Regions from separate parts of the Homo sapiens genome. Here region 1 is linked to region 2. The links come from fine-mapping of genetic effects on gene expression. A gene starts in region 2. The other region holds a variant in brackets. All regions are shown on one strand. Distances are between the middles of the regions.

The links. PIP is the estimated chance that this variant, and not a neighbour inherited with it, causes the effect. A credible set is the group of variants that fine-mapping cannot tell apart.
Region 1: its variant is the best candidate, but not a certain one, in a credible set for the expression of RIPOR3 in esophagus muscle (GTEx, PIP 0.81).

What each region holds. Positions count from the first base shown.
Region 1 is chr20:50,593,542-50,596,446 of GRCh38, forward strand. RIPOR3 (RIPOR family member 3) reads right to left here. Exons shown (of 22, transcript NM_001290268.2): 15 at 2,599-2,722; 16 at 1,828-1,963; 17 at 1,012-1,173. Among named protein-coding and RNA genes, the nearest start is that of MIR645, 9.2 kb to the left of the region's middle. The variant G/A (reference allele first, on the strand shown) is at 1,565.
Region 2 is chr20:50,690,013-50,692,917 of GRCh38, forward strand. RIPOR3 (RIPOR family member 3) reads right to left here and starts at 1,530. Exons shown (of 22, transcript NM_001290268.2): 1 at 1,114-1,530. The coding sequence starts at 1,116. RefSeq lists an enhancer at 1-2,613.

The DNA of each region.
Region 1 (2,905 bases), 96 kb before region 2:
GTCTGGGCAACCATGAGTGAAACCCCATCTCAAAAAAAAAAAGGGTTTCTGATGGCACGAGGGCAGGTGTCCCTCACTGCATTCCCTGTGCTGTAGGGGAGGAGTGTGCCCAGCTAGAGTCAGGACTGTGACTCCAACTCACCCTGAGTCAGACCGTGTTGGGTTCATCCCCATGCCCTGGGCCCCACACCACACCTGGATCAAAATCCCGGAGGCAGGGCCTGGGAATATGCATGTCAACAAGCAGTCCAGGTGGTGCTTGGAACATGACTGTCACCTTTCACTTGCTCCACAGAGAAAGGCAAATTCTGGGGAAGAACGCAGTCCAGCCAGCATTTCTAGATACCCTCGTGGGCCCCTGCCTGCCTCCCTTCCCATAAGGTTCATTCTTTACCCGTCAGGCTCTGGTGGGAGGCATGGAATCTGTCCCCAGAAAAATGCTCTGGCGGCCGGGCGCAGTGGCTCATGCCTGTAATCCCAGCACTTTGGGAGGCCGAGGCGGGCGAATCACAAGGTCAGGAGTTCGAGACCAGCCTGGCCAATATGGCGAAACCCCGTCTCTACTAAAAATACAAAAAAAGAAAATTAGCCAAGCGTGGTGGTGCACACCTGTAATCCCAGCTACTCGGGAGGCTGAGGCAGAAGAATCGCTTGAACCCGGGAGGTAGAGGTTGCAGTGAGCCATGATTGTGCCACAGCACTATAGCCTGGGCGACAGAGTGAGACTCCATCTCAAAAAAAAAAAAAAAAAAAAATGCACCGGCCCACCAAGTTTGCACGCAGCTTCAGGGCTCCACAGACTGCTCAGAAGGCCCCACGTGGAGGCCCCTTCTCGCCCGGTGAAAGGGCGGTGACTCGCACTGAAGCTGAGAAAGCTCCTCCGTCCGATGGCATGAAGACACAGAGGTGAAGACAGGGCTGAAATGAGGCCAGCTGTGGCCACCCTGAAGGCCCTGGAGACTCAATACAGCCTTTCTGTGGGAGGGGACGACAGGACAGAAGGGAACCCACCTATTTCCAGCTGTCCTGGGTACTTCCCTCTGACTCTGTGCTGGAAGGTTTTCTTGAGCTGGTTCAGCAGCGTCGTGGCAGGGCAGGACAGGACCCTGCCAGGCCCTGTGCACCCTCTCCACAGCTTCAGGCACCCCTTCGTCCGCGAGGCCTGTGGGATGACTGAAAGCCCCAGTTCAGAAACCTGAATGGTGACTCGGGGAGAGCACATGACAAGGACCCGAAAGGTTTCCCTCCACTAGGACCTGAGGGGGTAGGGAGGAGGGGACGGTGTGGCTTGATGCGAGGTCCCTTCCCTGCATTCCCATGTGACACGTGAGCAACTTTGGCTCTAAGCATCTTACCAGGGCCACCACCTGCAGTCCCCACAACAACCTGGGAGGGGCTGCTGTCACCAGCCTCTCCTTACAGACAAGGAACCTGGCCTTCTGAGGGGAGGTCCCACGGGGCAGAGGCACAGCTGGGATCACAGCTACTGTTTGACGGCACATTCTGCACCTTGAATGTGGCCTGGGGTTACCTCACTGAACCCCGTGCAGTGCCCTCCTCCTAT[G/A]CAGATAGGGAAGCAGAGGCTCAGAGATGTGAATCATTTGCCTAGAGTCACACAGCTGACTGAAGAGTGTGCTGCAACTCCAGGACTTGTCTCCCTTACCTCCCCACAAAGAGTGTGTATCTCTGAGCCCAGCCCAGCCACAGCCTCCACTCTGGGCCCCGATTAACTCTGGCTATTAGGAAGGCAGAAGAGGCTCCCCGAGCTTTGATCCCGTCCCCGTGCCGCTCACATAGGCAGCCCCTGGGTGGCAGGCAGCTACTTACTCTCTTCAATGGATGTTGCCTTGCCGACCTTCTCAAAGTCAAGGACAGAAAGTGTCTCCAGAACGTGCTTTTGCTGTGCCACTTCTTCCAGGAGGCATTCCTGGACCAGCCTTGATAAATTAGGGGAGGCCAGTTTCTGGGAAGCAGCCCAGATGCTCCAGATTAGCATGGAACATGCCCACCGAGGTCAGCTGTTACGGCTGTGGCTCCCACCTGCTTGTGCCCATCTCTTCTGTCCCGGGGGCAGCTCCCTGACTGTCATTTGGGGATTCCCCTTTCACCAAGGTGGCTGAGCTAATGGGATGCAGGCTGGGCTGCCAGGGACCACCTTTGCCCCCAGAAGGAGGACCAACCTGCCTGAAAGTGAAGCCAACCCACATTGCAAAGCAGAACTGAGAGAGACCTAGTCCTGATAGCATTTGAACCCGTGCATCCAGCCGAGCCTGAAGCCTACCTCTGAGGCTTTCAGTACCATGAGCCGATAAATTTTCCTGTTGGCTGAGCCAGTTTGCATTAGGGTTCTGGCACCTATAAATGAGAGTCACCACCAAAGCCTTTGGTTTAGGGCTTGGCCTGTGTAAGAGCCACACGAGTATTCACCCAGACCCTGGTCTGCCTCTCTTCCACTGGGGAATAGCTTCAGTCTCACGGGCTTCCAGGATGCAGGTCTGTCACCCCTTCATGCTTCCCACCACCTTCAAGATGAGCCTTTGCAAAGAGGACTCCAAACCCCTGTCTGCCCCTCCCTGACAAGTCCCCTAGCCCAGCCACCTGCAGCAGAGCTTTGCAGACTTGGAGGTGTACCATCAGCAGCACGTCCAGCTCTGGGGCACCGGCTGTGAGTTCCCTGGATGACGCTTTCAGTGATGACGGTGGGGGCAGGGGCCGGTCCTTTCTGAGTTGAATTGAGAACTGGGTGACCATTCCAGTTAGCAGTTCAGCTCCCTCTGAGGGTGGGGGAACCCTCCCTTCCCAGCGAGCCCCAGGTCAGGAGGCCCACTCCAGGTCCCAGGAAGTTCAACTGAAGAGGAAGGGGAAAGGAACAAAGGGTGGCAGCAACTCGAAACAGAGCTGGGAG
Region 2 (2,905 bases):
TGCCAGGGAGACACGAGCTGACTTTATCTGTCTCTTATCTCTTGGCTGCTGCCAGCCACAGCTGCAGGGATATATATGCAAATAGCTTACGATAATATTAATATGTGATTCCCCCCAGGGGAGGCATGTGGAAAGCGCTGTATGCGTTTCACAATTCTGTTTCATCCAAAAACACTGCACGGGCCCAGAGTGATTCGAAACAGATTTTCTGCAAAGGCAAAATAAAATTGGAACAAAACCTAGTTGAGGCATATGCCAGTCTCCCTGCCCCCAGCTCTCTCCACCTCTGACATATTAACCCTCTTCTCTCATGCCCCCAGGAGCCTCCTACGACAAGGCAGCAAATCTAGGAAATTGCACTGGGCACTCTTCGTTCAAGCCTGGAGCCCCTGCCCCATCCCAGGGCAGCCAGCCTCCACCCTGGGCTGACACATCCTTTAGAGAGTAAAAGGCTGCTTGCCAGTGTCAGCCTGTCACTCCTTCTGTCCCACCTCTGCCTCCTTCCTGCAGGTAATGCTCCATCCATACCTCCTTCTCCTTCACCCCTGCTGCTTGGGATAATTGCAGAACCATGGAGCACAGAATACAGAATACTGGGGGTGTACAGGAGAGTTTAGCCAAAGCAAGTCAGAAAAACCTAGGTCTTTTTTCGTTTCTGCCACTGACCGGCTGTGTGACCTCAGCAAGTCACTTCACTTCGCCCAGCTGCTGTTTCCTCAGGGTACAATGAGGACACCAATAATACTTACCCTGCAGGGGGCTTACCGGGATTTCCCGAGCCGACGCTTCAAAAATGCCTACACAGTGCCTGGCGTATAGCAGATACACAAGGAATAGCTGTCATCATGAGAATCTCTTAAAGATCACCTAGTTCAACCACTGTTTTAGAAACGGACAAATGGAGGCCTGCAGAGGGCAAATAACTTGCCTAAGGCCACACAGCACGATACCGCCATCCCATCTCAGCCTCAACCCAGGTTCCCTCCTCCGGCCTTGGGAGCTCCAGGTGGCCTGTGAGGAACGGCTGCCTCCTCCTGTCACCCCCAGCTCCAGAAGTCTGTCCACACAAGGCGGCGTCACGGCACACATGGGGAGCAGTCACTTCACACTCACCATCGAGCAGGTCTGGACACTCGAGTGCAGTCCCGCCGCCCTCCTTGCAGCTGCCTCACTTTCCCTATTGCCGCCAGCAAGCGTCTGCTCCCATCTGGCCCGGGACTCCCGGACTCGAGCTAGGGCTCTGCAAATTCCATCCACACTGGCCACCAGCCGCTGGTCCCGCTCTCTGGGAAGATCGCCTTGAGGACCTGCTGCGCCCCGAGTCTTCCTTCTGGTGCAGGGAGGCCGGTGCCCTGCCGGGCTCTGATAATGCAGCCGGGACTCTTATCTGGCCTGTGTCAGGGTGCAGGCGGCCATGGAGCTGGGGTTCCAGGAAGCCCTCCTGGGGCCCCCCAGCCGGCCCCGCTCCCCCCGGATGCCGCCTGCTGCTCTGGACGCGGCCGATTGCTTGTCAGTGTCACTCCCAGCTCTGCCGGGGGGAATTCCATGCTGGCCCCCAGCAGGCGGGGCCCCCACCCCTTCACGTCCCACCCCCCACTCCCATTTTGGCAAGGGGACTGGGAAAAGGCAGCTAATTTCAAGTCCGCACAGCGTTTGTGGTCGTGTCCTGAATCCTCCACGATTAATCACAGAGCATCTGATTTCTGCTTTGCCTCAGAGAGGGGCGGAGGGGACGCCTGGAAGTTTCTGTTTACTCCATTCTGCACCAGGCTGCGTGCTAATCACAAACAGACTGGGACGCAGCCTACCCCTCCTAAACTGCTCTTGGCCACCCCCTCCCTCCTCCAGCCCTCTCCTTCCTCTTCTTACCTTGTCACTTTCCTCCAGCCCCTTCCTCACTCTTTCTCCTTTCCCTCCTTTCTTTCCCCTTTCCCATCTGTCCGCCTCTTCAGTCCAGATCTGATCCATTGCACACCCCTTCCTTCCGTCCTGGGTTTCCCCCAAGCCCCTTTCCCCCTTTGCGCCTCCCACTTCTCCTAGATTGAGAGTCAGCTTGGTTCTTTCCTTTACATCCATTAGTGAGGGTCAGGCTCTTTTGTTATGTTTTTTTTTCTTTTGTATAACTTAATTATTTCAGGGTTCGGGGTGGGCGCTCGCCCCTTGCCCAGTCACACTGGTGTGTGTGCGACTCCTACAAAGTTAACAGTTTCTCCAGGTCAAGGGGTGGGATCCAGGCTTGGTGATGTGCACAATTTCTTTTGTCCACTTGACACATCTCTGCGTCCTGATTCTGCTCAGGGACGGACCCAAGAACAAAGCAGCCATTTACCGCCTCCGGAGGGGAGGCCAGCCCTGTGGCACATCCAGGGCCTTGGAACACCTAGAGACAGATTTCTCTCCCTCGCCTTGGCTCCTTTCCACTCTGCAGCTAGTGTGGAAAAGAAACCAGAAATAAACAGCACCAAAGAACAGGAACGGACACCCCTCCCCATTAAAGCACACACACAGACTCTGAAGGGTAATTTGGCAAAGACCTCTGAAAACCAGAGATGAGGGTCTCCTACTACTTATGCCTGTGCACAGGAGACAGGCACAGAGATGCTTGCTGAGAGCTGCTTATCATAGGAAATGATGGGAAATAACTGAAATGCTCATCCAATAATGACTGCTTGAACAAGATGTGAAAGATATGGTACATCAGGCAGCGGTTTTTTGTTTTTTGTTTCCTGACAATGGGCCTTGTCTGTCATCCAGGCTGAAGTACAGTGGTGTGATCTCAGCTCACTGCAACCTCCATCTGCTGGGCTCAAGCAATCCTCCTGCCTCAGCCTCCCAAGCAGCTGGGACCAGAGACGTGACCCACCATGCCTGGCTAATTTTTTTAAAACATTTTTTGTAGAGTCAG